Linked DNA regions of Homo sapiens: region 1 is linked to region 2. Evidence: fine-mapped QTL for protein levels in blood plasma. A gene starts in region 2. The other region holds a variant in brackets. All regions are shown on one strand. Distances are from middle to middle.

What was found. A credible set is the group of variants that fine-mapping cannot tell apart. PIP is the chance, under the fine-mapping model, that this variant and not a neighbour inherited with it causes the effect. The UK Biobank Pharma Proteomics Project read protein levels with antibody pairs (Olink). The fine-mapping took linkage between variants from a reference panel, not from the people measured, so its PIPs are less certain.
Region 1: its variant is the best candidate, but not a certain one, in a credible set for the plasma level of the CSRP3 protein (UK Biobank, PIP 0.57).

Annotation. Positions count from the first base shown.
Region 1 is chr11:22,192,211-22,208,905 of GRCh38, reverse strand. It overlaps ANO5 (anoctamin 5), which reads right to left and starts at 15,821. Exons shown (of 22, transcript NM_213599.3): 1 at 15,374-15,821; 2 at 5,056-5,102. The coding sequence starts at 15,413. RefSeq lists enhancers at 15,004-15,193, 15,444-15,533, 16,184-16,253, 16,284-16,343, 16,574-16,663 and a silencer at 15,954-16,003. The variant A/G (reference allele first, on the strand shown) is at 11,848.
Region 2 is chr11:19,193,475-19,210,169 of GRCh38, reverse strand. It overlaps CSRP3 (cysteine and glycine rich protein 3), which reads left to right and starts at 8,187. Exons shown (of 6, transcript NM_003476.5): 1 at 8,187-8,216. It overlaps CSRP3-AS1 (CSRP3 and E2F8 antisense RNA 1), which reads right to left and starts at 13,457. Exons shown (of 6, transcript NR_183675.1): 1 at 13,251-13,457. RefSeq lists an enhancer at 74-3,785.

The DNA of each region.
Region 1 (16,695 bases), 3.0 Mb before region 2:
GTAGAGCCTGTTTTTATTGCATTTGAGTGTCAGAAAAAATATAATTTAGCATTGAGGAAAGTGAAATAAGTTGTATTCACTTTTTTTAACTTTTTATTTTGCAATAACTATAGCTTCACAGGAATTTGCCAAAATAATACACACAGATCCCATGTAACCCCTACCCAGTCTCCTCCAATGGTTATTTCCATCTTACATAACCACAGTAAAATATCATAATCAGGAAGCTGACATGAGTACAATGTCTCTGTATAGTTGGAGGTCATTTTGTCACGTGTGTACAATTGGGTAAGAGCCAGCCCTGTCAAGGTATAGAGCTATTCCATCCACAAGGATCTTCCTCATGCTACCCTTTTAAATTTATGTCCATTTTCCTTCCCCTCAACATCCATGTCCCTTAGAAATCACTAATTTGTTCTCCATCTGTATACTGTCATTTCAGAAGTGTCATAAAAATGGAATCATAACATATGTGTTCCTTTAAGATTTTTTTCCACTTAGCACAATGTCCTGGAGATCTATCCAAGTTGTGTTTATTAATAGTTTGTTCCTTTTTACTGATGGGTAGTTTTACATGATAAGGCTGTGCCACACTTTGTTTAACCATTCACCTGCTGTAGGACACTTAGGTTGTTTCCACTTTCGGCTACTACAAATAAAGCTGCTGTGAATATCTGTGTTTAGGTTTTGCGTATGAATATATGTTTACATTTCTGCTGGATAAATGCCCAAGAGTATGATTACCCAACTTACATGAAAATCATAATTTAGATTTTTAAGAAACTGCCCAACAGTTTTCCAGAGTGACTGTATCATTTTATGTTTCCCCCAGCATTGTGTGAGAGATCTAGTTTCTCTGCATCCTAACTAGTAAGTTGTATTGTCACTATTTTATATTTTAGCTCTTCTAATAGGCATATACTGACATCTCACTTTGATCTTATTTTGCATTTCTTAGTGGCTGGTGATATTGAAGATCTTTTCATATGCTTATTTGCCATCATATTTCCTCTTTAGTGAAAGATCTCAATATGTATTTTGCCCACTTTCTAACTGGGCATTTTTTCTTGTAAAATATTTAAATTTTATGGGTTCTTTATAAATCATAGATACAAGTACTTTGTCTGATACAGAATATGCAAATATTTATCCCAGTCTGTAGCCTGTCTGTTCATCATCATAACAGGATCTTTCAGGGAACAATAATTCTTACATTTGATAAACTCCAATTTATCAATGCTTTTCATTAATAATGTTTTTGTTTGCAGATATGACATAACTACAAACCCTTCACCAAGATCTAATTTCCAAACAGTTTGATCCATTTTTTCTTCAAAAAATTGTATAGTTTTACATTTTACATTTAGTCCATGATCAATGTTGAATTAATTTTGTATAAGTTATAAAATTAGGTTAAGTTCATAAGTTTGCCTATGAATATACAAATGCTCCAGCCTGTTTGTTCCATTGAACTGCTTTTGCACATTTGTCCAAAATCATTTGGCTGTACTTGTGTGAGGCTATTTCTGGGATCTCTATTCTGTTTCATTAATCTACATGCCTATCCTTCTCCAAATATCACACAGTCTTCATTAGACTGCAGCTAAAGAACAAGTCTTAAAATAACATAGAGGGTTTTCTCCCACTTTCTTCTTTTTTTCACAATCATTTTATCTCTTCTACTTCCTTTGTATTTCCATAAAATTTTCTGAATAATCTTGCCTATGTCTATGAAATGTCATACAGATATTTTAACTTATATACCAATTTGGGTTTCCACATTCTCATTACCAGTATATAGAAATATAACTAATTTCTATATAATTTTCTTATTTTTTACAACCTTCTTAAACTCAGTTCTAGGAAATTTTGTTTTTGTCTTTAATTTTGTAGATTTCTTGGGATTTTCTATGTACATCGTCATGTCACCTGGAAATGGGGAGAATTTTATTTGTCCCTTTCTGATCTGAATACCTTTTATTTTATTTTTTTGTCTTATTGCAAGAACTGTCAGTACTATATTTAATGAGAAGGGTAAGTGAGGACATTCTGATCTTACGAAGAAAGTGTTCAGTCTTTTATTATTAAATATACTGTTAGTGTAAGTGTTGTGTGGATGCTCCTTATCAGGTTAAAATAGTTCCTCTCTATTCTTGGTTTTCTGAGAGTTTGTGTTTATTTTTAATAAATGGAAGTTAAATTTTGACAATATTTTTTCTGATAAAAATCACATGATTTTTATTCTTTAGCCTTTGGTGAAGTATACCAATTGTTTTTCAAAAAATGAATGGAGACCAGGCACAGTAGCTCAAGCCTGTAATCTCAGCACCTAGGGAGGCCAAGGTAGGCGGATCACTTGAGGTCAGGAGTTCGAGACCAGCCTGACCAACGTGGTGAAGCCCCCATCTCTACTAAAATTATAAATATTAGCCAGGTGTGATGGCATACACCTGTAGTTCCAGCTACTCAGGAGAGGAAGGGGAATCACTTAAACCTGGGAGGTGGAGGTTGCAGTGAGCCAAGATCGTGCCACTGCACTCCAGCCTGGGTGACAGAGCAAGACTCTGTCCCTTTCCACACGCACACAAAAATGAATGGAGCCTTCCATCAATAGAGTAAACCCTACCTGGCCATGTTGCATAATTATTTTTATATTACTGAATTTTATTTGCTAATATTTTACTAAGGATTTTTGTATCTATGTACATGAGGGATCCAACTTTTAGGTTTTTTGTTTTCATTTTTTTTTAAACTGTCTGTCTCTTTTGGTATCAAAGTTACGTAGGGATCCGACATGAATTGAGAAGCATCTGTTTTTCTTCTATTTTCTGGAAGAGATTGTATAAAATTAATGTTAATTCTTCTTTAAACATTTGGTAGAATTCTCCAATGAGACCATTTAAGCCTGAAGAGGTCTTTCAGGGGAATTTAAAAATTACACATTCAGTTTACTTAGTAGCTACAGGGCTATTCAAATTATTGTTTTAACGTTGAGTGGATTATAGTAGTTTGTGCTTCTTGAAGAATTGGTCCGTTTCATCTTAGTTGTCAAATTTATGTGTGTAGAGTTGTTAGTAGTATTCCTTTATTATCTTTTTGGTATCTACAAATTCCATATTGATATGTCCTGCTTTATTCCCGATATTGGTTACATATGTCCCAGCGCAACTCCCTTTCTGCCAGTCTGGCTAAAGGTTTGTCAATTTTATGTATCTTTCCACAGCTTTTGGTTTCAATGATTTTTTCTAATACTTTCTGGTTTTCAATTGCTTTTATTATTATTTCCTTCTTCTACTTGCTTTGGGGTTGTTTTGCTCTACTTTCCTTTTATTTATTTTATTTTATTTTATTTTATTTTATTTTATTTTGAGACAGCCTGGGCCCAAGAGTCTACAGTTTTAAGAAATTCTTCATATAATTCTTATTCTTGTTTGTATATTGATCTGCAAACTACACTATAAAATCACTGTCCTATATGATCTTCATAGTTCCCTCTGGTTCTCATATTCTGTTTCTCTCAGCATTTAGGTCGCTGAACTTTTCTTTGTTAACTTTTAGTTTAAGTCCAGAGATACAAGTGCAGGTTTGTTGCATACATAAACTTATGTCATGTGGGCTTGTTGTACAGATTATTTCATCATCCAGGTATTAAGCCTAATACCCACTAGTTGTTTTTCCTGATCCTCTCCCTCCTCCCACCCTCCATCCTCCAAAAGGCCCCAGCGTGTGATGTTTCCCTCTATGTATCTGTGTGTTCTGATAATTTATCTCCAACTTATAAGTGAGAACATGGGGTATTTGGTTTTCTGTTCTTGTATTAGTTTGCTAAAGGTAATGGGCCTCCAACTCCATCCATGTTTCTGCCAAGGACATGATCTTGTCATTTTTATGGCTCCATAGTATTTTATGATATATATGTATCACATTTTCTTTATCCAATCTATCATTGATGGGCATTTAGGTTGATTCCATGTCTTTGCTATTGTGAATAGTGCTACAATGAACATATACATGCATGGGTCTTTAAAAAAGAATGATTTGTATTCCTTTGGGCATATACCCAGTAATGGGATTGCTGGGTCGAATGGTATTTCTATCTTTAGGTCTTTGAGGAATTGCCACACCATCTTCCACAATGCCTGAACTAATGTACACTCCCACCAACAGTGTATAAGCATTCCTTCTTCTCCACAGCCTCACCAGCATCTGTTATTTCTTGATTTTTTTAACAATAGCCATTCTGACTAGTGGGTCACTGAACTTTTAAAGGAACCCTGTAACTTCTAGGAATCTTAATGAGCTTATCCAGCCAACTAGCAAATAGCCAACCTATTCTAGAAGGACGTGTTTTCCAAGCAGAAATTTCAATCATTCCTGGAAATTCTTTTTAAATCCTGTTTATATCTGGCAGGACATCCTGAAACCACTCAAGGACGTCTACCTCTGTGAGAGCTATGCATGGGATTCTTTATCAACTAGAGTCTATCAGAAAAATGATTTCATTGAAATGCCTTTAACATGCTTATATTCAGTATAGAAGCAATATAAATTGTTTGTATGGTTCTTAAAATTTATATAAGAAGTCCTTTGGTTAAAAGAATTCTGTATTTTTACAAGTAGTATTTAATTTATTTATTATTCTATTTAATGTGTTTATGCAATTCAGGTTGAACTCCAGTATAGTCATAGATAAGCACTAATCATACTAATAACTGTAAAATAATAAGCTATCACAGACTACACTAACATTATATTATAGCAAAATGTTAAGCCAAATACTAGTATCTTGCATATCAATGATCAGCATATCTGAGTTTATTTCACAGGGAGCCTCAAAACAAATCAAAGATCTATTTGTTCCCTTATAACATCTAGAAAAGATCCAATATTAAATCTGCATGGAACATGGAACTTGCTTTAGCTACTTAAAAAATGAATAAATTAGAGGGCATAATAGAATGTATTATAAGTAAATAAGTACAAAGGCTTAGTTAACCTTATCTTGATTTTTTATTCTGACTTATAAGGAAGTTAATGCATATATATTTAACTTACCTCACTCATTTGGAAAGAGTAGTCTATATGCTTATTGACTTTTTCCCCTAAATTAAATAAGAAAGAGAAAAACATGTTAAATTAGCCACTGATCAGAACATATTCAAAAGTCTGTGTAAGGAAAAAATAGGAATTGAATGAATTAAAAAATTCAAAGAAAAAATACTAGAAGAAAAGATACAAGATGATTCGGAGCTAAATTGTTTAAAACAGACTCCAAAAGAAGTCTTACCTAAAACTGCCTATAACAGGAAAAGCATAAAATACTGATGTGTAAAATACAATCTCAATTACTGAGAAATAAACTTAACTCTGATCAATGTGGTTATCAACCTATAACCACAAAACCACTGAGAGTTAAATACCCAATAGGGTGTCCATTCATATGTTTTAGTTCTCACCACATGAGATTTCATATTCTCTCACCTTATTTTCCTGAAATCAAACCAGACAGCTTGTATATAGAACACTACCAGTTTCTACACAGGCCAGAGTACTTTCCCGACATACAGATAGCTCCGTAATGGTAATGCATTTAGTCGTTTGCACTAAAATACATGTTCAAGTAAGTTTATGACACTAAAAAAGTTAAATACAGAACTGAAATTCTTATTTTCTAGTGGTTCCAACTTGAAAAAGCCCTAAGATATATTTAAGTCAAAAACTTCCTATATATTTTTTTTGGAGAAAATATCACAATGGGAACCACATAAAATGTTAGCACTTTAAGTTCAAGTTAGTGACCATAATTTTAGAAATACGATAGAAAAACTGGCGAATGAAACTGAACAGAGAGCCCAGAACAAGACACTTTATTATATGGAAACTTGATATTGACCTATTGTAGGGGTTGACTAATGTCTCTCCTACACCAAAATTCATGTCCATCTCAAACCTCAGACTGAAACCTAATTTGGAAATGTAGTCTTTACAGATGTAATTAGTTAATGATCTAGAGATGAAGTTATACTGGATTTAAGGTGGGCCCTAAATCCAATGATGGATGTCCTCCTAAGAAAAGAAGAGGGAACAGAGGCACAGAAGAAGGCAGTGTGAAGATAAAAGCAGAAATCAGAATGATGTGTCTACAAAGCCAAAAAACACTAAGTATTTCAGGTGCTGTAGTCTGAATGTGCTCATGGTGCAGAGCTCTTATGAATGGGATTAGAGCCCTTATTAAAGAGATTCCAGAGAGCTGCTTTCCCTCTTCCATCATGTGAAGACACAGTAAGAAGATGGCATTAATGAGCCAGGAAACAAGCCCTTACCAGACACTGAGTTCAGTACCATGATCTTAGACTTCATAGCACCCAGAACTGTGAGAAATAAATGCTTGTTCTTATAAGTAAAAAATAATAAAATAAAGCAATTGTATAAGTCAAAAAAAAATTTAAAAAATCTACCATTTGTATAGCTTTTTCACAACCCAAGTATGACAGTCCAATTCCTTTTCAAAGATCACACAAATCCCTCAGTTATTCTCTTAAATAATTAAGCCCATTATATACATAAATTTATACTTGACAGAAATTCAACCATTATAGGTCAGCTAGGGAATAAAGTCCAAAGTTTTCTGCAGAGGAATATTTTGAGTTTTGATCTGTACATTGGTTAAAACGAGGCTGTATGTGAAAATAAACACTGGTTTGTAAGAAAGCTTTATTTTATTTATAATTTTATTTTATTTTAAAAAGCAGATTTATGGGTCATAGCTTTGCTAGTATAAGATGGGGTCATTCTTGATATGAGTTTTTTGCCTTTGGCAAACAATAAAATTCTTTAAAATTAACTAAAACCAACCAACCTCTCCAACCTCACCCTTTCACGCTCTTAAGTCTGGCCCACTAGTCTCCTTTCAGATCCTTATACCTTCTTTCAGTTCCATTCTCCCTCTTTGAGGGGCCTTAACACACAATTATTCCTCTGTAAGGAATGCTCTCTGCTATGGATTGAATTTGTCTCCCAAAGTTTATGTGTCAGAAACAATCTGCAATGCAACAATGTTGAGAGGTAGGCCCTTTAAGAGGTGATTAGGTCATGAGTGCTCTGCCTTCATAAATGAATTAGCACTGTTATCACAGGAATAGATTTGTAATAGCAAGAATGGATTTGTTATGAAAGAAAGTTAGGCCATCTCATGTGTGCATGCTCTCTCACCAAGTGATGCCTTCCACCATGTTATGACACAGCAAGAAGGGGCTCACCAGACGTGGTCCCCAACCTTGGACTTCCCAGCTTCCAGAACATGGACCAAATAAACTTCTATTGTTTATAAATTACCCAGTCTGTAGTATTCTGTTATAACAGCACAAAAGGGAATAACACACTCTCTCTCTCCCCACCTTGCCCTGGGTAATTCTTCACATCCTTCAGATATCAGCTTGAAAGTCACTCTCTCCCCAGGGAAGCCTTCTTTCACATATCTGGCTAGTTCAAAGCATCTGATATATCTCTATTTGCACTTGTCAGGGTTTCAATTTTACACGAATATTTGTGCATTTTAATTACTATCTTTTTATCCGCAAAAGAAGATAAGTTTCTGAAAAGTGAGCACAATTTTTGATTTTGTTCTTTTAGCACACTGATTGGCAAATGAAAGACGGCTGATAAACATTTATTGAAAAATTGAATGAGCGAGCTGACAAGGGAGCCAAGTTTTTCACTGTGGCTGCAAATGAAAAGCCAAAATATAATGATAACTTGCCATGCACCAGGCACTGTGCAAAGAGGTATAACAAATATTTACATGGCATTTCCTTTGTATTACATATTATAAGTAATCTAGCAATGATTTAAAGCATGCACAAGGATGTGCATAGGTTATATGCAAATACTATGGCATTTTATATAAGGGACTTGAGCATCCTTGGATTTTGGTACCAGTGGGGTATCCTGAAACCAATGCCTGTGGATACTGAGAGACAACAGTACTCACACACATACATAACACACCCATACAAAACACACCCATACAACTTCTCCTTCTAGGTGATAATTCAAATCCTATATCAGCAATTTTAAAGTACTGTCTGCCATCCCCCATCAAGATACAATTTATTTTACTTTTTGTATGTGTCAAATTTATACATTTTATTTTGTATTTAAAGTTTTATAATAATATTAAAACCATATTTGTCTTTTTCATTCTGTTGACGTTTGCACTGGTGATGCAAAAACAATGGGATAAAACTGCTGGTGCCATCATGTGAATCAAGGCTATGGCACCAGACTATATTAGTAGTCATTATATTCTCCACCATCATGCACTCTCAGTACAAAAAGAAACAAAAATGTAGTTTAACTTAAAAATGTCCTTGATAAACAGTAAAGCTTATGAAGTTTATAAAATCTTGACCCTGAACACACAAATTTTTAATAATCTATAAAGAAACAGGAAGAATGCATGAAGCGCTGATGCTGCATTCCAAAGTACCATGGTTGCCTCATGAAAAAGTACTTTACATTGCAAGGTAAAGTAGCTAAATTTTTCATAAAACACCATTTTAGTTGAAAGTATGATGGGAAAACATATAGAGTCATACAGACCTGACTATTTGTCAGATATTACCTCAAACATTAATGACATGAATCTATCACTTCATGGAAAACACCTGACAGTATTTATTGCCAATGACAAAATTTGAGTTGCAAATGAAATAATTTTTGTAAACTTATGACCGTCACTGTGTGCTTAACAGATTCCCAAGGCATTCCTGATAAGATCAGTGATGATGTTAGCATTACGTTTTGGTATTTTAAAATGAAATATGTCAGCATTTGGAAGATCTGTATAACTCAGTAGATAATTGTTTTCCAAATAAGCAATACATGATGTTACAAAACCATGCATGAGAAAAAGATACATTTAAAGTGAAGGACAGACCAATAGATTTTAATGCAGCAGTGAAATAAAAGTTCATTTCAATGGTTTCAAATTCTACATTATATCTAACTTTAAAGAACCTATTATTCGTTGAATTTGGGGGCAAATCAGAGAAGAATATCCATAATTATTCAAAAACTTTCTAAAATTATCCTCCCTTTTCAACTATAGATCTCTAAGAGGCCAGATTTTTTTCATACACTTCAACCAAAACACAACACATCACAACAGAGTGAATGTAATGCAGATACGAGAATACCTATATTTTATCAGGCCAGAGATCAAAGAGATTTTTTTTAAAGTAGAACAATGCACTCTTATCACTAAATTTACTTTGTTTTAGAAAATATACCTATTTTCATAAAACTATGTTAAGATGAAATAGAAGACTCCTAAGCATGAGAAATTTGAGAAGATGTCCTTTAATAAAATAGGAAAGACTTAATGGTGGGTGACTAATACAGCAGAGGCTACAGGCTACTGACAAATATCTTTCCTCCTCCTCCTCCTTCTTTGCTAATAGAACCTCAATTATATGGTGTAGTAATGTACTCAAGCAAACAAAACATTTCCTAGCATCCATTGCAAGAGTATGACATAAATTCAAAGCTCTCAGCTGTCATAAGTGGTATGTCTATCTCATAATGTTTGTGTAAGCACTAAATAGATAATGCATGTACTTGGCATATAGGAGGTAAGCAGGTGTTATTCTTGTTGATATTGTTGTTATTATTCTATTCTACTGTTAAGCTTCAAAACTGCTGTAAATTCCTTGGGCTAAGTTTCAGAATGTCAGAATAAAATCGAAATAACTCCTTCTGTATTCAGATCTTTGTGTTGCAGGATCTGCTCTTAAAATGTTTTACTCTAAGCAAAACATGAAAACTAACCAACTATAGCTATACCACTTAACTTTCTGAGTGCAGGCTTTCTCATGTAAAAGATACAAATCTAAAGGGAAATGCTTGAAAAATATTAAACATCATGCAGTATTATCATCAATGGGTTTTACCCATGATTACTGCCTAAACACATAGCTCAAAACTCAGTTGATCCTGATCCTGATCATCTCTCGTTAGATCTGTGAATGAAAAGGAGACCAATTTAGAATGGCTTTACAGTGAATAGATAAAGAATAGGATTCTAAGAAATACAAGCCTTGTGTCTCAAGATATGATAGTTAACATTGACTTAGAGAGGCTTTTTTTTAAGGACAAAAACAGTCACTATTATGCCAAAGAACAATGCATCAAACAAAATATAGTTCCAATCACAGAACAATCAAGCAACTGCAAACCTTAAGCTAGGTTTAAAGAGTTTTACAATTCTATTTTTACAAAAAGAAAGTTGAAAAACTGCAAACACTAGCCCCTCTTTTTCCTAATTATTTTTGTTCCATTTAACATAAAACAAGTAGGTGAAAAAATATTTTCAAGCTGCTATTAAAATTTGATGCGATGCATTTATTTGAGAATGTGGAAAAGGGACAATATGAATCCCCCAGATTACCTCCTATTATTACTAGCTCTCCTTTCACACTTTAACCTTTAAAATTACAGCTTTCTTTCTCTAGAACTAACACTGTTTCTTCCCTTTCTAACTCTTGCTTATTTTTCACATTATATCAGCCTAGACCTCCTCCTTTCAGGCCTTGCCTGAAACCTCAACTGTCCCCTGGATTGGCCTCCCACCTGCTCCCATACCACCTTGAATGCAGCCCTCTCTGGACACCTAGCTCAAATACACATCCCTCCACAAGACTGTCAGCTCCAGAGAACCAACAGAGACACATTTTGTCAACTGCATCCTTTTGTGAAACATCGGGACATTCAAGAGGATAGATTTACTTCCACACACACCATGCTCCCTCTCACCCCTGCACACTTACTGCTCGCTAGCTCTCTCACATGTATGCACCCTTGCAATTAGATGTTCACACAGACCATAGACTCAGACACTTTCATACTCCCTCATGGAGTATAAAGATGCTGTGACTATGCATAATCACCAAAACCTCTGTCAAAACTGAGGCCTGACTGAAGAGGCAGGATTTGAAGCCAACAACTCTGTCAGCTTCTTTCTATTCCTCCAACTTCCTCTAAAATGAATGGATAGCACTATACTCTCCCTGCGGGCTAGATTCCAGGGATATGAAAGATTTGGTACCAATCACTGTGGAGAATCATCAAATACTTGCCAAAAGTAAAGCCAGCCTAAAGACTGAGTCTTGAGTTTTCACTGAAAGCACATGACTAAGAATACACACTCCAGCAAATCCACAGCCCAAAAATAGCACTTGTACTTACCAACTGGTCTTCTCAGTTTACACTCTTACTAGCAGTATAAAATAAAATATTTCTAATCAAATATTAACATTACTAAAGACGGATGGCTTAGTTGGACACAATGCTTAACATAGCCGTAAAGATGCAAACAACCTAACGTTCAAGTTTTAATCTGCCTTTTCCAATGCTAAAGTCTCAAACTGTCTTTTCCAATACCAACTGTATCATAAATCAGCTAAAGCATAAACATTTCTTGAGGCTATGGTGAGCTATGATCACACCACTGCACTCCAGCCTGGGCAACAGAGTAAGACCTCAAAAAAAAAAAAAAAAGTTAAATTCCAGCAATGACATTTTACTGGCAATGTTTGTTTATGTAACTAATTAAGTGCTCTATTAACTTCTGCCATTAGAATTTCATTTTTAAAATTAGAAGATAGTAGGAAATTAGCCAATTGGAGATCACTGATTCCTCATGTGTTTAATTGTGAAAAAAGTAGAGAAGATGTAATAAATCTTAGATCTATTAAGTCTAAAAGGCAAAATGTTATGTTGTCTCTCTTACAATCAATTTTATAAATTAACTCTCATATTCAGTATTTAAAGGTGATTTAGAAAGCACAT[A/G]CAAAATCAAGGCTTACCTATATGGGTAAATTTAGTCTAAAAAGTCTTCTTATATTTTAAAACATAGAAATGAAAGTAGCTATTAAAAATTGATGCTCTGGAACTTGAATTTTTCAGCCTTCTTCAGCCAACACTTTTGTTTTCATAACAGTGTCGTTTATTTTATTTTTATTTTATTTATTTATTTATTTGAGACGGAGTCTCACTCTGTCACCAGGCTAGAGTGTAGTGGCGCAATCTTGGCTTACTGCAACGTACGCCTCCCAGGTTCAAGGGATTCTCCCACTTCAGTCTCCCGAGTAGCTGGGACTACAGGTGCATGTCACCACACCCAGCTAATTTTTGTATTTTTAGTAGAGATGGGGTTTCACCATGTTGGCCAGGATGGTTTCGATCTCTTGACCTAATGATCCACCTGCCTCGGCCTCCCAGAGTGCTGGGATTACAGGCGTGAGCCAACACACCCAGCCAACAGTGTCATTTAAATCCAAGAGAAAATATATCTGGAAGCAGAGTTCTAAAAATCCACTGGAATGTTCATTAAAAAAAAAAAAAAACTCTCATAACAATGAACTTTTCATACATCTTAGTGCTATGGTTTAAATATCCCTCCAAAACTCATGGTGAAATTTAACTGTCATTGTAATGGTATTAGGAGGTAGAGCCTTGAAGAGGTGATTACGTCATGAGGGCTCCATCCTCATGAATGAATTCATGCCATTCTCATGGGAGTGCAACAGTTACATTAGAATTGGGTTCCTAATGAAAGGATAAGTTTGGACACATTTATCTCTTGGTCTAATGTGCTCCCTTGACCTTCCAACATGTTAAGAGGCAGCACAAAGGTCCTTGTCAGATGCCAATACCATGCTCTTGGACTTTCCAGACTCCAGAACCAAAAGCGAAATATTTTCTTTATAAATTACCCAGGCTGTGGTATTCTGTTATAGCAATAAAAAAAAGTAGGCTAAGATACCTAATAAGAACACAGGTCTCAATAATGGGCAGTAAAACTAAACCAGCAAAAGAACTGACATGCTAAGAAACATCTAAAAATATACGAGTCATATGAGTGGCCTGAACTATGCTGCTCTTTAGGCCCTGATCTCATCAATGCCACACTTCCCTGATGCTTGGGTTCTGGTTCTTTGAATATATCTAGATACAGGAATTTGGGCAGAATGCAGTAATTAGTCCCAGCCATCAAATATACGGTATTCCTCATCAATATCTATTTCTCTCACCTCCACCCTAATCAGAGGCACAATTTGGATCACATGTAAGCATAAATAGATTACAAAGGCCCTTTTTTAAAATGGGGGAGTGTGACTGGGCATTGTGGCTCACATCTGTAATCCCAGCAATTTGAGGGGCCAAGTCAGGTGGATCAGCTGAGCTGTGGAGTTCAAGACCAACTTGGGCAACAGGGTGAAACCCCATCTTCATAAAAAAAATAATAATTAGCTGGGGAGGTCGTGGTGCAGCACCCATAGTCCAAGACACTCCAGAGGCTGAGGTGGCAGGATCGCTTGAGCCTGGGAGTCAGAGGTTTCAGTAAGCAGAGATGATGCCCCTGCATTACAGCCTGGGCAATAGAGCCAGACCCTGTCTCAAAAAATAAAAAAAAAAAAAAAATAAGGGGGGTATGCTTCAACTGACACCATTAAGAACATAGAATGATAACACTCAGAATGGGAGGAAATATTTGTAAATCATATATCTAATAAGGGACTTGTATTCAGAATATATAAAGAATTCTTGCAACTCAATAATGAAAAATACAACTAAATTTTTGTAAACAGGCAAATGATCTGAATAGACACTTCTCCAAAAACGTGAATAACTAATAAGTATATGAAAATACTTGCTACATTAGTCAGTAGAATCAAATCACAATAGAATCAAAATCACACTGAGATACCACTTTACAACCACTAGGATGGCTATAATAAAAAAGACAATAACAAGTGTTAGTGAGTATGTACAGAAATTGGAACCCTCATACATTATTGATGGGAAGGTAACATGCAGATGCCTGGAAAACAGTTTGGCAGTTTCTTAAAATGTTCAATATAAAGCTACCACATAATCCAGCAATTCCACTCCTAGATATATACCCGAGGAAAATAAAAGCATATGTTCATATGAAAACTGATACATCAATGTTCATAGCAGCATTATTCATAGAAGCAAAAGAAAGTGGAAATAACACAAATCCTACCATCGATGAATGGATAGGTATGCTATATCTCTACAACGGAATAGTATTTGGCAATTAATAAGAATGATGCACTGATAAAAGCTGCAGTATGGATTAACTTCAAAAACGTTAATCTACGAGAAAGAAGCCAGTTACAACAGACCACATGTTGTATGATTCTATTTATTCGAATGGTCTTGAATAGGCAAATCTATAGAGACAATAAAGAGATTACTGGTAGGAAGTGGGGAGGATGGGAAGTGACTGCCTAAGAGGTTTCTATTTGGGGTGATGAAAGTGTTCTAAAATTAGATTATGATGATAGTTACAAAACTCTGTAAATACACTAAAAAAAATCCAACTTTACACGTCAAATAGGTGAATTTTACAGTATATAGATTATATCTCAATAAAGCTGCTTAAAAAAGGGAACGAGGAGGATGCAGTAACACACGGTATTTCCCGGTGCCTTTGAAGACTGAATAGTAATGATCAGATCTTTTGTCACTTTGGAAAACTGTTTCTGTGTTTAAATCCAACACTAAACAAGACATGAAAATAAAATATCATTGAAGGAACTGGGGTCCTGGAGATAGCAGCAAAATAGTATGTGCATTTTAAGGAAAATACATGTATTAAAATAGGTCCACGGAATACAGGTGGTGTAAAGGCTTTGGCAAACAATGGATAAATATTTCTCAACGGAACTAAAGGGCTTAATGAAAGCTGTTGAAAAGCAACAGCAGCAGCAGCAGCAGCAGCTTTTCCAAGTGCCTATGGCTCTCAGTATCTCAAACTGATAGATTTTAGGATCTGCTACTCCTACAATTAACAAGCATCTCAAAGCATGATAAGTAACGGGCAGAGAGAGTGAGGTAATAAGACTCAAGGACCAGCTCCTTACACGTGGGATAGCTGTCTTGCACTCTATACTGCTGCTTTTTTTGGGAAAGCCTTCGTTTCCATTGGCTGGGTTCGGAGACCCAAGCACTGCAGCGCTAGCCTAGCAGCCCTGAATTACTCGGCGGTTCCCAGGCCTGCAGGGGAGCAAGGAGGGTGTTCCGGAACCATAGGGGTCACAGGTCGCAGGTCCCTGGCGCGCAGGAGCAGCAGAGAAATCTGTGGGGCGCCGAAACCAACCCCACTCACCCCAGGCGGGGGACTCTGCCCCGCAGTCCCGGTTTCGCGCTGAGCACGCCACGCAGCGAACCTCCCTAGGACTCAGGCCGCAGGGCCGCCAACGTCCCCCGGGGCCTCTGCGCCGCGGGTGGAGGGGTGCAGGCAGCCAGCCTGGCTCTCCCTTGACGCCTCTTGGCGCGGTCCTACCTTCCTCCGCCAACACTTCCAGGAGATCCGGGTCGCCCATCTTCGCCAGCTCGTTAATGGCACTGGTGCCTGAGAGGCAGCAGGAGAGGGGCAGCTGAGACAGACGTGGAGATCTGAGGCAGGTGCTGAATCTGACTGTGGGCCGCCGGAGTTGCTGCTGCTGGACTTCTAAGGGCCTGCTCTTCCTTCTGCAGGCCTCCTTCTCCTCCTCCTCGGACTCCACCGTCTCTGGGCGCCACAGCCAGCCGGCCTTCCTCTCCGGCGGGTACTTCCACTCGACCCGGTCCCCCACAACCTGCTTCGCGCGCTTGGCCCTGCGCTTCCCCACCCTCAGCCGGTAGCGCTCCTGGGCGCTCTCCCAGTACTTCTCCAGGCACCTGTCCCTGTGCCTGCTCGGCAGCTGATCCCGCAGCCGCCACTCCTCCCGGTGCTCGCCAGGATCCTTTCCACTCCTGCCCTCTGGCAGCTTTCCTTTCCCCTTCGCTGCGTCCCTGTTTCCACGCCTCTTTCCCCGCCTCCAGACCGCAAGACCGGCCGGCGCCCCACCCTCGGAGACCGCCATCTCCCCGCCCCCCGGCCCGGCTGGCTCCACGCTGGCCCCCTCCTCTCCGCTCAAGCCGTCCCCAGGTCCCTGCTCTGCCGCCTCCCGCACCTCCTCCGGACATGCAGCCTCCCGTCCCTCCTCGGGACCCGCCGCCCCCCGGCCCTGTTGGCCGGCCTGCTCCATTCTGTACAGGCTTCGCACGTCCTTTTCCACTGGGTCCACCCACGACCAGGAATCCTGGTTCCCCAGGGCTGCCGCTTCCCTCCTGTCGGAATCCTCCTCCTCCGATCCCCAAAGGGGGTCCCGATGCTCCCTCAGCCGGTTGGCCGGGTCTTCATCGATCCGCTCATGCGTGCCACTCGGAGAGAACCCCTCTCCCAGTTGGGAGTTACTTTTGGTCTCGTGGGGAAAAGTCCCTCTCCCTTAAAGGAACCCCTCCCTTTTAAGGCCGGCTCATGGCCCGAGACTCCAAGGTGCCAGCAGCCCCTTCCCCATAGCGTCTGGAGCGGGAGTATTGACTTTTCTCCTGGCCCTGCCTGCTTCCTGGGTTCCCAGCAGGATCTCTGCCCTCTACAGGTGGGGGAAGGTCATCCCTTGTGGCCTGAGTTCCAAGTCAGCCTCTGCCCCTTAAGAGTTGGATAGTGTGGGGCAAGTTTCTCTAAGTTTCAGTTTCCACATATTTAAAGGAGAATGATAATAGTACCCACCTCCTAGGCTGTTGAGAGAAGCACGGTGCACAGTCCTTGCCACAGAATGTGTTAAACATTTAGCTGCTATT
Region 2 (16,695 bases):
GATATGGTAGGAATGTAGCCCTTTCAAGACCTCTCAAAATTATTCAGCTACATGAATAAATTCAACTTCAACTTCTAAATGCCTACGAGGTGCTAGCATTGAGGACCCAAAGACAAATAAGATGCTCTCTTTTTTACAGAGGAGTTCACCATCTAATGATCCAAAAAGACACGCATACAACCAGACAAAGTTCCCCATAATGAGAGCATGTTTTAAGGTCCCAGTGCAGAGTATCACATCCTACCTGGAAAGGTTAGGGATGGAGGCTTCCCCTGAAGAGGCCATTTGGGCTGTTTATTGAAGGATGAGGAAGATTCCACCAGAGGGAGGAGGTGAAGGAGGCGGAGGACATTCCAGGCAGAGGAGGGAGCATGAGCAAAGCGTAGAGGCATGAAAGTACTGGCTATTTTTGGAGAACAGTGATTAGACTGAAGAGGTTGGTAGATAGGATAAAGGAAAGTGGGATGGTGGGAGAAGAAGTGGGAAAGTTAATCTGGAGCAAGATGAAGAAATTTGAAAATGATGTCAAAATTTTTAACATGATCTTATAGTAAGGGGGCACTAACAGAAGTCTGCGAGCTGAAGGGTGCCATCATCAGATCCAGGTTTTGAAAGATGACTCTGGTGGTGGTGTAACAAATGGAAGGGAAGTGGGAAACCTGGGTGGGGGGCTTCTGAAAAAGTCTAGGCAATACATCTGAACTGGGGCAATAAGAAGAGGAGGCACAAAGGAAGGGCTAAATTCAAAAGACATTGAAGTGCCTGTTGTTGACACAGGTGAAGAGTCATAAAGACTACACAGCCCATGGAAACACCTCCTAAGACAATCCCACTGATCCACTCTGAACCTCTGCAATTTGATTTACTTCTGTCGATTTGCTGGCCATGTGATACCCACTTTGGGGACTTGTGCTGCTCCAGGCTTCTCCTAAAGGCTTTGTACCAGCTGAATAGCAAATGTAGGCACAGCCTCTTCTGAATCTGTCGGACTGTTTCTGTAAAACCCTGCTAATCTCTCAGTGCAAGATAAAGTTAAGCTGGTACGTTGGCTATGTGGGTGCTCAGCCCCACCCTGTCCTCTCTCCCAACTACATAATGCCAACTAGATCAAATTCTGACTAAAGCAATTCTACTAGTTAAAATTTCCATCAGAGCATTGGCTCTGGAACAGAGAATCTGAGTTCAAGGTTTGACTTTACCATATACTAGCTGTGTAACCTAACTTCTCAAACAAAGTTCTTCATCTATAAAAAGGGGATAATAACACCTATATCTTCCCTTTGATTCAGAGAGAGGCAGAAACAGAGATAAAGGGACACAGAGGAGAGAAATTGCACCCAAGAGAGAATCAAACACATCATAGTGCTTTTAAGCTGAAAACACTGTTATCACAGCAAGCAGTGAATGGCCATGAAAATAAGGAGGCCCGTTTTTAAAAATCTGGATGATGTAAATAAATGAGCCATTTGTTTCATCAAGTCTCATTTCATTTCAGTAAAGATGACATTTGTTATTATTTCTTGGAAAAAAAGAACCATCTTGATGCACTTATGTGTTGCTTTGCCCATTTCCATGCTTTTCACAGACGCAACGCATGGTCAGGAGCAACCTCTGAATGGTAGGTTAGAGTTAATTCTCTTTTTGAAATAAGAGCCAGTGACAAATATCAGACCACTGGTGCACAGAAATAGTGAAAAGCCCTAGTTACTCAAAGAATGTGGCTGACATTGAATACATTATGGTCCAATTATGTTTCTTTTCAGAGCGGTTTAGATGAGCAGATGGAAGCTGAGATTCCCAAGCCTGCAAGTCCCTCTCACAAAATGTTCCCTCTTTTATGTGGCATGGTTTAGATCAGTGATTCTCAAAGTAGGAGGTGGGGAGCCCCCTAGGAAACATGAGAAATAATGCTAGAGTATGAGACAAAAGATTGAGACTTGTATTCTATTTAATATCTTTTTAGTGCATCATTGTGAATATGTTTTATACTGTGTGTGTGTTTGTGCACGTGTGTATTGCTCAAAAATGTTTTATGAGGGGACCATAATCAAACACATTTTGGAACCATGTTGTGGAAGGGTTTTGGGTTAGATCTGGGTTTGAATTTCCTCATCACCTTTGTGATGTGTGTTTCCCCCTGACTTACTAATTTTTAGTTATCCTAAGGAATACGAATGAGGAAGCAATGGATACTGGTCCTAACATCGCCGTGAATTTCCCGTTGACCTAACTGTGTGGCGTAAGAGATTTAGTTCATTTTCATGGACTGCATTTATTTCATTCCTCATTCATACCAGGGGAAGAATAATAATGCCTTCTTGACAAAGTTCTTGTGAGGATTAAATAAATCACTGTTTCTAATTGAGCTCTCTTTTTCTGATTTGGGGTATAAAGGCAGTGTTTTAAGGCATGTGATTTCAGGTCGCCCTCACTGTCCTGGTTCACGCTTTTGCCTGGTCTCCTTCATGCCCTCTGTTTCTCAATGGTTCACCTGTTTATGGTAATTCTGGGAACAATGAGGCAGAAACAGCAGGTTCCAGTCCCAGCACCACCAATTCACTTGCCATTGAGTGGACGTTCAGCTTGTACTGATTGAGCACCCTGCTGTGTGCACAACACGGGCTTACTGTCACCTATTCCTCATAGCATCTCAAAAGGGATTTAGGAATTTCTTCACTTTTCAGATTCAGAAGATGTAGAGCAGTGCTGTCCAAGAGACCTTTCTGCAGTGATGGAAGCATTCTGTAGCTATCCTCTTCACTGTGGAGGCACTAGTCACATGTGGCTGTTAAGCACTTGGAATGTGGCTTCTGTGACTGAGAAACTGACTTTTACATTCTACGTATCTTAAATAATTTCAACTTATATAGCCACGTGCAGTTATGGCTACTGTGTTGGACAGCACAGTGCTGGAGAATGCTGACAGACCCTAGAACTCCAGAAAGTGATTTAAAAGAAAATAAATTAGAGAGAACACTGAAAACAACACCATAAAAAGAAGTGTCCACTAACAAGTGAGAAATTTCAAAGAATTCCAGAGAGAAAGCAGAAGGCTGTGGATTAACAGAGCGAGAAGTCCTGGCCACAGCAGTGTAGCAGCGTGTGGCGAGGCAGGAGCTGTCCTGGGACATCCCAAACTTGCATGTCCTGGGACATGCAGAGTGGAAGGCACCCTGGGCTATCACAAGGGTGATGGATAAGAAGATGGGTCCAGGGCTAGGAGCTTTCCTCACTTTCCAGTGTGGCTCCAGACTAAGGGGCCAGAAATCCCAGGGAACTCCCCATAGAACCAGTGACCTCCAGAGAGAGTGGGACAGCTCACACCCAGGAAACACACCGCCACTGCACACACCTGGTAGCAGGCTCCATCCCTGTCCCACAGTCCCTGCGGGAAAGCTCCTTTAATCAGAGGTGGTATCCACCAAAAGGAAAACAGAAATTCTCAAATGACATGGTAAACACATATCCAAAAATCCCAAATATAGTTGAAAAACCAGCACTATGAAGATGAAACACCAAACTCAACACACAAAAGAACAAATATCCAAGAAAACATAATTGATAGAGCAAACAAAGAAGACTTCCCCCAAGTTAGTATAATGAATATCCCCAGAGAGATGCAAGATGATATGTCATTTATAAAGCAAGGATGGGCTATATGAAAAAATTAGGTATCTTAAAAATTATAAATGTAATTATTTTAAAATCAGTAGATGAGCTGAGCAGAATGTACATGGAGGAAATGCAAATTAGTTCCATGTAAGATTGAGCTAAGGAATTCTCCCTTAATAAACATAAAAGGACAAAGAAATTCTAACTTCTAATGAGAGTTTCAGCAAGAGGAAACATTACATATAGGGAGGGATTAATGAGAGAAATAATAAAAGGAAATTTCCTAAAGGAAAAAAAGTGAGTTTTCAAGTTGAACTCATCCACTAAATTTCAAGCAAAATAAAATTTAAAAGGCCGTAACACAGGAAATTGTCATAAAATTCAAGAGAAGATCCTGAAAGTTTCTAGAGGAAACAAGACAAGTCAATAAAGGAACATGAATATGACTGGCACCAAACTGTCATGTACGTTACTAAAAATAATTGAAGACAGTTTTCAAAGGTCTGACTGAAAATTATTTTGGATAGAGATTCCTAAATTTAACCAAACTAGCATTCAAGTGAAAGCAAAATGAAGACTATGAGGGGCGGGATAGTGTCCCTCCAAAATTCGTATGTTGAAGTCCTAACTCCCAGTAGCTCAGAACGGGACTGTATTTAGAGATAGGGTTCTTAAAGAGGTAATTAAGTTAAAATGAAATCATATGGGTGGCTCCTAATCCAATATGACTGCTGTCCTTGTAAGAAGAGGAAATTAGGACCCAGATACACAAGGAAGACCGTGTGCAGATACAGAGAGAAAACAGCCATCTACATTCAGAAGAAACCAACCCTGCCAGCACGTTGGTCTTGAACTTCCAGTTGCTGGAATTGTGCAAAAATAAGTTTCTGTTGTTTAAACCAGCCTGTCTATGGCATTTGTTACATTATGTGATAATTCAGTAAGTTTACAGCAGACTCTCTCAATGAATTCATCGAGAATGATTTACCTCACACACACACACACACACACACACACACACACATGCACACACACAGAATTAAAAATGTAAGGTACAAAAAGTAAATAAAGAACAGTAATTGGGAGGCTGAGTTGGTTGGATCACCTGAGGTCAGGAGTTCGACATCAGCCTGGCCAACACGGTGAAACCCCGTTTCTACTAAAAATACAAAAATTAGCCAGGCATGGTGGTGGGCACCTGTAACCCCAGCTACTTGGGAGGCTGAGGCAGGAGAATCACTTGAACCCAGGAGGCAGAGGTTGCAGTGAGCTGAGACTGCGCCACTGCACTCCAGCCTGGGTGACAAGAGCAAAACTCCATCTCAAAAAACAAACAACAACAATAACAAAACAGTAATTGAGTGAAGAAAGCACTAAAATTTATCATTAGGTTTAAGTAAGTACTAACCCATAATGAACAAAACTAATTACAATCCAAAACTGAAACTACACATCATGTTGTGGGGAGGTGTGTAAAGGCAAGTTCAGAATGTGCAAAGAGGGCAAGACGTGACGGTCAAAGTGCAGCATTCATTTCAAGCAAGGAAGCTCCTTTTATTTTTTAATGCTTAATTATAACTTTATTTTTTCCTTTGTTCTCCTAAAAAAATAAAACGGGATACATGTGCAGAGTGTGCAGGTTTGTTACATAGGCATACGTGTGCCACGGTGGTTTCTGCACCTATTGATCCATCCTCTAAGTTCCCTCTCCTCACCCATCCCCCACCCCACAGCAGGCCCTGGGGTGTGTTGTTCCCCTCTCTGTGTCCATGTGTTCTCATTGTTCAACTCCAACTTATGCATGGAAGCTCCTCTTTATTTATTTATTTATTTATTTATTTATTTATTTATTATGCTTTAAGTTTTAGGGCACATGTGCACAATGTGCAGGTTAGCTACATATGTATGCATGTGCCATGTTGGTGTGCTGCACCCATTAACTCGTCATTTAGCATTAGGTATATCTCCTAATGCTATCCCTACCCCCCCCCCCCCACCCCACAACAGGCCCCGGTGTGTGAGTTCCACTTCCTTGTCCATGTGTTGTCATTGTTCAATTCCCACCTATGAGTGAGAACATGCGGTGTTTGGTTTTTTGTCCTTGTGATAGTTTGCTGAGAATGATGGTTTCCAGCTTCATCCATGTCCCTATAAAGGACATGAACTCATCATTTTTTATGGCTGCATAGTATTCCATGGTGTATATGTGCCACATTTTCTTAATCCAGTCTATCATTGTTGGGCATTTGGGTTGGTTCCAAGTCTTTGCTATTGTGAATAGTGCCACAGTAAACATAAGTGTGCATGTGTCTTTATAGCAGCATGATTTATAATCCTTTGGGTATATACCCAGTAATGGGATGGCTGGGTCAAATGGTATTTCTAGTTCTAGATCCCTGAGGAATCACCACACTGACTTCCACAATGGTTGAACTAGTTTACAGTCCCACCAACAGTGTAAAAGTGTTCCTATTTCTCCACATCCTCTCCAGCAACTGTTTCCTGACTTTTTAATGATCGCCATTCTAACTGGTGTGAGATGGTATCTCATCGTGGTTTTGATTTGCATTTCTCAGACCTAAAACCATAAAAACCCTAGAAGAAAACCTAGGCAATACCATTCAGGACATAGGCATGGGCAAGGACTTCATGTCTAAAACACCAAAAGCAATGGCAACAAAACCAAAATTGACAAATGGGATCTAATTAAACTAAAGAGCTTCTGCACAGCAAAAGAAACTACCATCAGAGTGAACAGGCAACCTACAAAAATGGGAGAAAATTTTTGCAATCTACTCATCTGACAAAGGGCTAATATCCAGAATCTACAATGAACTCAAACAAATTTACAAGAAAAAAAAACAGACAACCCCATCAACAAGTGGGCGAAGGATAGGAACAGACACTTCTCAAAAGAAGACATTTATGCAGCCAAAAGACACATGAAAAAATGCTCATCATCACTGGAAGCTCCTCTTTTATCTGCTTTATATACTGATTTTCCTCTTATCTACAGAAAAAAGTATTCTGATGCAAACACACACACAAAAAAAATTTTAAAGCTACTATTGGTTGACCAGTTTCAGTGACTCAAGCCTGTAATCTCAGCACATTGAGAGGCCGAGGTGGGCAGATCACTTGACCCCAAAGTTTGAGACCAGCCTAGGCAAAATGGTGAAACCACATCCCTACAAAAAAATTAGCCAGGCGTGCTGGTGTGCGCCTATAGTCCCAGCTACTCAGGAGGCTGAGACAGGAGGATTGCTTGAGCCCAAAAGATCGAGGCTGCAGTGAGCTGTGATCATGCCACTGTACTCCAGCTTAGGCAACAGAACGGGACCATTTCTCTAAACAAACAAACAAACAAACAAACAAAAGCCACTATCCTAGACGATTTCTAAAGTCCTTTCTAGCTTTAACTTTCTAAAATCCTCGTGATTGCCTCGTCTTTATGATGAAGATGCCATTTAGTGAAAACACAGACCACGGATATCTCATAGGAGGCTATGCCACGGCCGTCTTTGTGAAATTACTGCAACCTTCTTGACAGTGAAATATTCTATCCTTCAACAATTGCTTTGTGGGCAGGTAACCAAAGGGCTAATATCTGATGTGAAGGCTGGATCATGAACCTCCCGGTTGGGTTCTACATGTACCTTACCTCAACATCCGGGTCAACATGAGTGGAAGGGGCTTGGTGCCTCAGTTTCCTCATCTATAACATGAAGAATTGGTCTTCACATCTCTGAACCTCTTGTCAGCTTTTCAATGCCATAATTTATATCAGTCCCTGGTGCTTGATCAAATTTAAACGGTGTGAATTCCAGACAAAGAAAAATTAGACCTCCAAAGAAAATATGGGTCTACAGAGACATATCAAGATGTTATAAATATAATGTGATGATGATAAATATGCACTGCTGTATCAAATTCTTAAATAGAAAAGGATAATAACAAAGTAAATCAAAACTTTTTAGAGAAAACTTCGTTTCCTAGGATAGATGGAGTGACAGGTCCCAAGTGATGTGCCAACCTTTTTTCTCCCAAGCTTCTTTGAAGAGATTATCTAAGTATCGTTTCAGACACCCATCACCCTTATTTTTAGCTCTGAGTTCTCTTCACGAGTGTGGTGACCTGTGGCTCTAAGTTCCAGAGGCTCCCAGATATGGCACATGACTCATTTGCAGGTACCCTGCAATGATTTCCAGGAAGGTCAGTGGGGTGGGGGCCTGGAGAAATGATTTTTGATGTTAAACCCTTAGCTCTTGTTCCTGTTCCAACCACTTGATCAGAAATGACACACTTCATAAATTGATCCCTTGGTGCCATAAGCAATTGGCAGTGCAAATAGAACCCAAGTGATTCGGTTCTCCAAGAGGCTCACAGCTGGCTGGGGGGTTGGGGGAGACAAAACTCAGGGCTTTGGTCACAGTCTATTTTCAGCCCCTGATAGCAGTTGTGTTACTCACGTCTCATTCACCCTCTCCCTTGGCCTCCCTCCTGCCCTTCCCCCAGCAGGCCAAGGCTGGTGACAGCCTTCATATATTTAAAGAGGACAAGAGCCCCTCAGACTCAGTTGAGCTGAACGGAGTCCACACAGGCAGGTGAGTGGAGCAAGGCAGACATTTGAGCTGGAGGTGGGTTGGTTCTGTGGCTGGTTTGGACTATAAAGGGTCCCATAGAGTAAGAGCACATTTTACGTCTCAAGTGCCAGCACCCTCTCTGGTTCTGTGCAAGGAGGCTCAAGTTGTACTTGACTCTGGTGTGGATCTAGCAGGTATTAAAAAATTCCTGCAAGGATGGTTAATATTTAGGGGGCTTAAGGGACCTCATAGGCAGATAAATGAGTAAAGAATTATCCTCATTATAAAACTACTTACGTGGTGGAATTACATTTCCTGTCATCTTAGTTGGAACAACTGGAAAGCGGGAGGAAATAATGGAAAGTCTGCTGACCTTCTCGTCTTACAACCACCATATAATTCATGGATGACAGACTTTGAGAAGGTTCCTGCCCTCAGGGGCTTGGTCTCCTCTTCTGCAAGGATCAATACAAATTGGCGACATTTTTTCCAAACTGTAAAGTACTGCACAGATACAAAGCGATAAGCGATTGTACTAGATGCAATATATAAGACAGCTTTCCCATGCTCAATTTACCTGGAATGGTGTTATTCAAAAGGTCGTGGTGAATGACTGAGATTTTGGGCTTGTTGATTTTAAATAGACTTTTGTATCCCAAAGATATTCAGCAACAAGTTTGCTTTTAATCTTTTGAAATTAATCAAAACTGGACCCCAAAAAGACATTGCTATGTTGAAATATATTAAAAGCTCTATTAAATGGGAGGATAATTTATCCAGTGGTTAGGATTCCCACTGTTTCCTCTAGGTTTTAGTCAAGGACTTTTTAAAATATCCCAGTGAATGACAGACATAGGTGTGATTGAGAATAAGAAGAGGTTTTAAGCAATGGTCTGAGTGGAAATGCTGCTGAAAGATCCAAGCTGCCGACTCTAATTTCTGCCCTGTTCCTGAGCCAAGGTGGTGACTCCTCCAAGAAGGAGGAGTTGAGTTACTGGTCTGAGGAACCTTGTCTCTGCAATACGATTCAATGTAATTTAATAAGCATGTATGGACCATCTCCTATGTCAGGGCTGGAGGGAGGTAGAGGCAGCTCTATGCAGGGAAGGGTATAAGTGAACAGCACGAAGAGTGGGAAATTGGGGATGGCCTGTGTCCTCAGTTTACATCTGGGATTAAATCTCAATGCTGGGTACATACAATTCATCACAATGCATGTAGAACTGCTTTATGATCCAGAAAATGTGAGGGAGTCTTATGACTTGGCTTTGTTCCCTTTCTGAACAACTCAGTCGTTTGTGGTCAGTGGCAATGAGCCCAGGCTATTGGGCAGGAGGTGTAGCTGAGCCCCAGGGCTTTGTGTCCTCCCTGGGGTTCAGGCAGACAGGTGCTCTGCAGCCCAGACACACGTGTCATCCATCAGAAACAGGAGACACAGGGCAAGGGGCCTCCTCCTTCGAAGGAGAGAAGGGGGGAAGGAAAGAGAGAAGGAGGGAGGGAGGAAGGGAGGAAGAGAGGAATGAAGGAAGAGGGAGCTGCAGCAGCATTCAGCCAGCAAATAGCCAAAATTCCCTTGGAGGAAGTGGAGACAGAATCTTGATAGAATAGAAACTCAGAAATCCTGGGATATTCAAGAAGAAAATAAAGATAATCAGTTATAGAGCCCGTTCAAATTATAGCTCTGAATATCACTTAACTTATCTGAGTTTCCATTTTCTGAACAATAAAACTAAGGGTAGCCTACCTCTATCAAAGGGACTTGTGAGAATTGAATGAGATAAAGTATAGGAAAGTACTTTTGTAAAGTTTAATATAACCGTACAAATATGTGAGAACGTTGAGAAAAGGCATACAGCCAAACCCAGTGGGTTTTGGGGGGGTTTCCTGCTAAGTACAAGCGTGCTGATAAAAGTCCAGAGGTCAGAGTGGGTAAGAAGCTGACCAGGAGTTAGAAGATAATTAATTTGTTTTACAAGAGGAAAGACCCAGGGCTAGGAATATAACACACAGGAAATACAAGTCTTGAGGCAGACAGATTTCCAGTTACAAGTGTGCTGTTCAGATATCTGTGAATAAATACTGTATAGAGGGTTGGGCTTCATGCACAAAGAGAAATGTGATGCCTGCAAATGTGAAAAACTGCAGTTATTCATCCCAGTGAAGAATGGCAGGAAGGGAGACAGTAATGGTCTTAAAGGGCATTGAGGATGGAGCCTTTTCTGAGCTTTACTGTGGGAAAGGGTTGATCATGATTTGATGGTCGTTTATGGCCTAGGCAGGCATGGAACGAGTACTAGCTTATTTAAGGGTCACAAAAAGTTATGCAAAACTCATTTTTCAGAGGAAGAAACTAAAGTTCTAGAAAGCTTAGGAATTGCCCAGCATCACATGGCTGAGAAAGCGGCAGAGCCAGGAGGTAAACTGGGATATGATGTGGTCTTTAGAAATAAATTGTAGAGGTCAAAATAGAACAAAGAGTGAGTTTTGGGAAGTAAAAGCTGGCCACGCTTCAGATATAATTTCACAAAAGGTGTAAGATGCCCATGTTCTACAGCCTTCATTTAATGTATGTCTACCATGTCTGAGTTTAAAAGGGGCTGAGAGCCAACACTCAGGTTTATTTCCATGCTGGCAATGAGCAACCTGTTCTTCCTGGGCTCTGTGAAAGGGCCTCTGGCCGGAGGACGTCATATATCTGGGTTCAGAAGCTCAGGAGGAAGCAGCCACTGACCTTGAATGTCCTACACCGAGAACTGAAGGGCATGAGCTCCCCAGACTACAGGGCCCCTGGCTAGGCATGCTGCCTCCAACCCAATCCAACAACGCAAGGGGACCGACTCTCACCCCGACCTGGGCACACCTGTCCTGGGGCACCGCACACTCCAAAGGCTGAAAAACAAAGCTGATTCACAGTCTGAACCAGAAGGGCCATGGAAAACAAGCAGGGAGTGAGTTGTTTGTTCTAAAAGAACAGACTTGAAAACTGGAGATAATGTAATAACAACAATAATAGTCATGATGCAAGTAACTACAATTATTCAATTCCTGCTATGTATTAAGTAATTCTATATGGTGTCTTAGCTATTATTATCTTCTTTAACCTGAAAACAACCTTCCCAGACAAGCCTTCTCATATTGTCTTTACATGAGGACATGCATTGAGGACACTGGGTCAGAGAATTTGAGCAACTTGCCCAGTGTTCAACAGTTAGTGTTTCTGAACTTAAGCTTGGTTCTTCCAAAGCCCATGGTTTTCACTGTGGCTATGTCATCTTTCTTACCCAAATTAAGAGTGAATAAAGGAGAGGGTTTGAGAGGGCACCCCATTGGGCAGCTTTTCTGCAAAGTGAGGTTTCAATCACTTTTCAGATCCTTAAATCTGTCTCAGGGCTTAAAGGACCCTTGAAGGGACTTCACTGTATAGCAGCCACTTGGACATCCGTCCCCACCTCAGCTGAAAATCAATAGTGCAGAAGAAATCTCCAGTTCCAAGGAAGCCCTTTCCATGTTGAACAGCCGTAACTCAGAAAGTCATTGATTTCAGTGAATGAATTCAGTTTCCCTGTTAGTCCCACCCTTGAATACCCTCTGTGTCCCATGGAGAGACAATGGATTGGTCACGTCTCAATTCCCATCAACTGGGAAGTCTGGGTGATGGAGGTGCTGACCCTTGTCCTCTCTCCAGTGTTATAAACAGGAGCATGAGATACAGAACCAGCTTAACGGGGGGTTAAATGGCAGCTCTTCCAATTACTAGCTGTGTGACCTTGGAAAAGCTACTTAAGCTCTTCAGTTCTCTTATCCATAAAAATGGAAATAAAATTTGCTCTGGGCAGCTGTTGTAAGTATTAAAAAATAATATATGTAAAGCAACTGACATAAAATAATATATGTAAAGCTTTGGAGTCAGAGAAACGTAAGTTCCAATCTATTCATGTGACACATATCAGTCCCATGAACTTGGACTAATGTAATTTCCCAAAGCCTCCATTTCCTCATCTGTAAAGTAAATGTTATAATAGCACCTACCTTGAAGGGTTGTTGTGAAGATTAAACGATACCCAAGGGCAGTGCTCCAGGCATGTTAACTTCAATAATAAAGTTAGAAATGACTATTACTATCGCTTAGATTCCATATATATATATATATATGTTCCTATGATCCAAAATCTTTGCTTCAGCCAGTGTAGACAATTGAACTCACTGCAGGAAATCAGGCATCTAGTAGGATGACCAACTGAGCTAGCACTGAGCTGAAAACGGTGGCATTGTGGCACTGTGGCTTGAGGTCTCTGCCCAAAGTCATGGCCTAAAGTTCCCTCCTGGGTGCTCATTTTATGTACCCACCACTTTTGCCCTAACTCATCATTGCTCAGCTTTATAGTTGGTAGTGAAAGAAGAAAGAAAGAAAGAAAGAAAGAAAGAAAGAAAGAAAGAAAGAAAGAAAGAAAGAAAGAAAGAAAGAAAGAAAGAGGAAAAGAGGGAGAGAAAGAGATGGAGAGAGGAAGGGAGGGAAGGAAAGGAAAAAGGATGGAAAGAAGGAGGGAAGGAAGGAAGGAAGGAAGGAAGGAAGGAAGGAAGGAAGGGAGGGAGGGAGGGAGGGAGGGAGGGAGGGAGGGAGGGAGGGAGGGAGGGAGAAATAGTTGGATTAGGAAGAATGTGCCCAAAATACACAGTTTAGTTATTCTTTTGAAAATTCAGATTGATGAATAACAACTTAAAATTGTGGGAGAACCTAATTGGTTCTCACATTTTATATTACTCTACAATTTACAGAATGATATGACAGTACTTGAACTAATAGGGTCCTCTCAGCAATAGTGAAATCAAAAGGATTATTGCCCTCATTCTAGTGAAGACACTGAAGTTCAGAGAGATTGAACGGTTTTCCCAGATCACACAGCTTCGAAGAGGCAAAATGGAACTAGAACTCCAGCCTCTGGCACCTGATCCAGTGTTTTTCCCACTGCCCCACTGAAGCACATTCCTAGTATAATCTCTTCTATGGTATTAGTTACATCTTAGTTTAAAAGTGGGCACAAGGTAGTCTCTCACCGGGATCTGAGTATCCAAATCTGGAGTCCAACCTCTTCCAAGTTGATGTCACAGGGCTGTCCATTCTATCTCATCCTCGTAAATTCCAGACTGTCCCCCATTTCAATCTTGACCCACGATTTGTCTTTGACAACATAGTCATCTCAGGGACTGGCCCAGAGAGTCGTGCCAGGTGGTATGATGGAGATTGTGACCCAGGTTACAAACAGGGCCGAGTGACGGGCAAGCCTATAATTGTATCCCACCTTCAATGACCCTTGCCAGTACCAGGCAACGCTGATAAACAAATGGCCCATCCCTTGGTACCTTGCCAGGGTAAGCTCACATTCTGGGAGTGTCTAGGGGAGTGTTGGGACACAAGAATTCCAAAGCAATGCGGGAAGCTGAAAAGGTTATGTTCATAAGCCAGGACCTAACTGGGATTTCAAATCATAGCTCCTTAATTAGCACATTGGTGCCATTTGAGTAACCTAAAGTGAAGTGGGAAAAAATAATTTCTCAATACTGCTTTAAATTCCATCATATTTCCATGACCTTCACAATGGTCCTGCCCAGGAGATACTATTATCAACATTTTTTACCCGAGTTCAAGGTCGAGATTAGAATCCATGTCTCTGGATTCCGAATGCCTTTTTATTTATTTATTTACTTATTTTTTCAGATGGAGTCTCACTCTGTCGCCAGGCTGGAGTGCAGTGGCGCAATCTCAGCTCACTGCAACTTCCACCTCCTGGGTTCAAGTGATTCTCCTGCCTCAGTCTCCTGAGTAGCTGGGACTACAGGTGCATGCCACCACGCCCAGCTGATTTTTGTATTTTTAGTAGAGATGGGGTTTCACCATGCTGGCCAGGATGTTCTTGATCTCTTGACCTCATGATCCATTCGCCTCGGCCTCAGTCCTGGGATTACAGGCGTGAGCCACCATGCCTGGCCTGGATTCAGGATGCTTTAAAATATCCTCTACCTTTTGGCCTGTGAGACATCTTCTGTTTAGCCTCCATGGTTACATTCCCATCTTCAGAAATGGAACTGAGCATCATTAATAGAGTACTTACAGATTTATATTTTAAATTTCAAGTCCTGATGATATATGTCAGATATTTATGATCGCTTAAAAACAACCAGTGCTAGGATACATTAGTTTGTGAAGGAGGTATTATCTGTAATCCTATTCTCATTTTGAAAAGTATGCCTAGGCAATGAATCCACACACACACACACACACACAGATATATATGTATTTTTATCCCCCAAGAGGTATCTCTGTCTCCTATTAACTTGCAAGACATGCCAATGAAATCTCCACTGCAAATCTGAAATGAGAAATTTGACCTAAGGTTGTTTTCATTGAAAATTTCTATATCATTAATTTTACAAGTGTCGCTGCCATGTTCCTGGAGGAAATTTATTATATTTCTCCTCTATTTTGTATCATGCTGAAACTCAGGATCAAAATGAACATGAGCAAAATTATGTGAGTCTATTCTTTTCTAGAAAATGTAACATCTTTAATGAGAGAAGAATGGATTGTATAAAAAGAAGTTGGCTAAGAAAAATATCCCTAAATGCTTACTTTTAAATACACCTTGGTTATAAATGAGAGGGTCCAGCAATCTTAAAAATCTATTCCAGCCCTGAAAGTCTGTAGTTTAAATGGAGTCCAAAATAAACAAATTTGGGCTATTTTAGAGGCTATTTAGGCCTCTACGCCTTTCTGCTTGCTCTTTTCTCTGCATGACTTCATTAGCATTATTCCTTCCCACTTTTCTGTATCTGGTGAACTCCTATTCACCCTTCAAACCCCCATTTGAATGTGATCTCTTCTGTGACCCTCCAACAGTTCACTGCCTTTATCCCCAGACTAAATGTGGGGAGCCAGTCCGTCATTTGAGTTTCTGTAGCATGTCTCACAAGACTCTTCTCTGGTACAGAGCATTCTGAATCTTGTCTATTTTTCTCACTACAACATGGGCTTCTCAATGCCAGGGGTCACAAACTACTCATTTTTATAAGTTTTCCCCCTTTTGTCACTGAGTACTTAGTGCAGTACTTGACACATGATAGGCAGGTAGTAAATGCAGGGTGAATGAATGAATGAACGAATGAATGTGAGTTTTAATTCTAAGTCTTTCAACTCAAAATCCATTACTCTTTCTAGTTTCCTAAACAACCCGAACTACAGAAATAGAAAAACCACATGCTTCCATTTTTTAAGAAATTCTTATTTATTTATTTTAGAGGCAGGGCCTCACTCTGTCACTTAGGCTGAAGTAGAGTGGTGTGATCATAGCTCATTGAAGCCTAGAACTCCTGAGTTCAAGTGATTCTCCTGCCTCAACCTGCTGAGTAGCTAGGACTGACTACAGGAGCATGCCACCACACCAGGGTAATTTTTTGGGGGGTGGGGTAGAGACAGGGGCCTCACTATGTTGCCCAGGCTGGTCTCAAACTCCTGGGCTAGTGATCCTCCTGCCTTGGCCTCCCAAAGTCCTGGGATTGTAAGTGTGAGCCACCATGCCCAGCCCAATGTTTCCTTTTTTAAAGTTCTTTTCTAAAATTTTACTGAATTAGCAGAAGATCCTACTTCTGTGAGAGGAAGGATAGGATGTTCCTGGCTAACCTCACAGTTTTTCTAAGCAGGAAAAGCTCTTTGGGGGAATATTTAGATAGAAACATTCCTTCTAGACCTAGTATCAGGTTCAGTGGTCTGTTTGCTATTTACTTTCTGTTTCTTAGCAAAAAACTGCCTTTGTTATGAGACTGTGAGATACAATCCGGACCAGTTGACCCAGGAGGGCTTAGTGTTAATCGCCAACTATTATAAGAAGGTGACTGGCTTCCCAGAAGGGAAAGTGAAGGTCACAAGCAGCCACTCAGAATGGCTGGATAGTGCTCCATGTCATGACACACTAGGCTTCTTAGAAACCAGAGGATCCCAGTGAAAATGCAGCTCCCCTGGGCAGCTGAATTTCAGAAGTTTCATTTAACATCAATGGCTTATTTTAGTTCTGCTTTGAGGAAACTGAAAACTTGGATTCATACTAAAAACATATGCAGATGAGGACAATTATTATTACTATTTTATTTATTTATTTATTTTTTGAGACGGAGTCTCGCTCTGTTGCCCAGGCTGGAGTGCAGTGGTACAATCTTGGTTCCCTGCAACCTCCGCCTCCTGGGTTCAAGTGATTCTCTTTCCTCAGCCTCTCAAGCAGCTGGGATTACAGGTGCCCACCACCACACCTGGCTAATTTTTGTTTAGGCCGGGCACGGTGGCTCAAGCCTGTAATTCCAGCACTTTGGAAGGCCAAGGCGGGCAGATCACTTGAGGTCAGGAGTTTGAGACCAGCCTGGCCAACATGGTGAAACCCCGTCTCTACTAAAAATACAGAGGACAATTATTTTTTTAAATAATTTTCTTTGGTTAATATCTCTTAAATGTAAT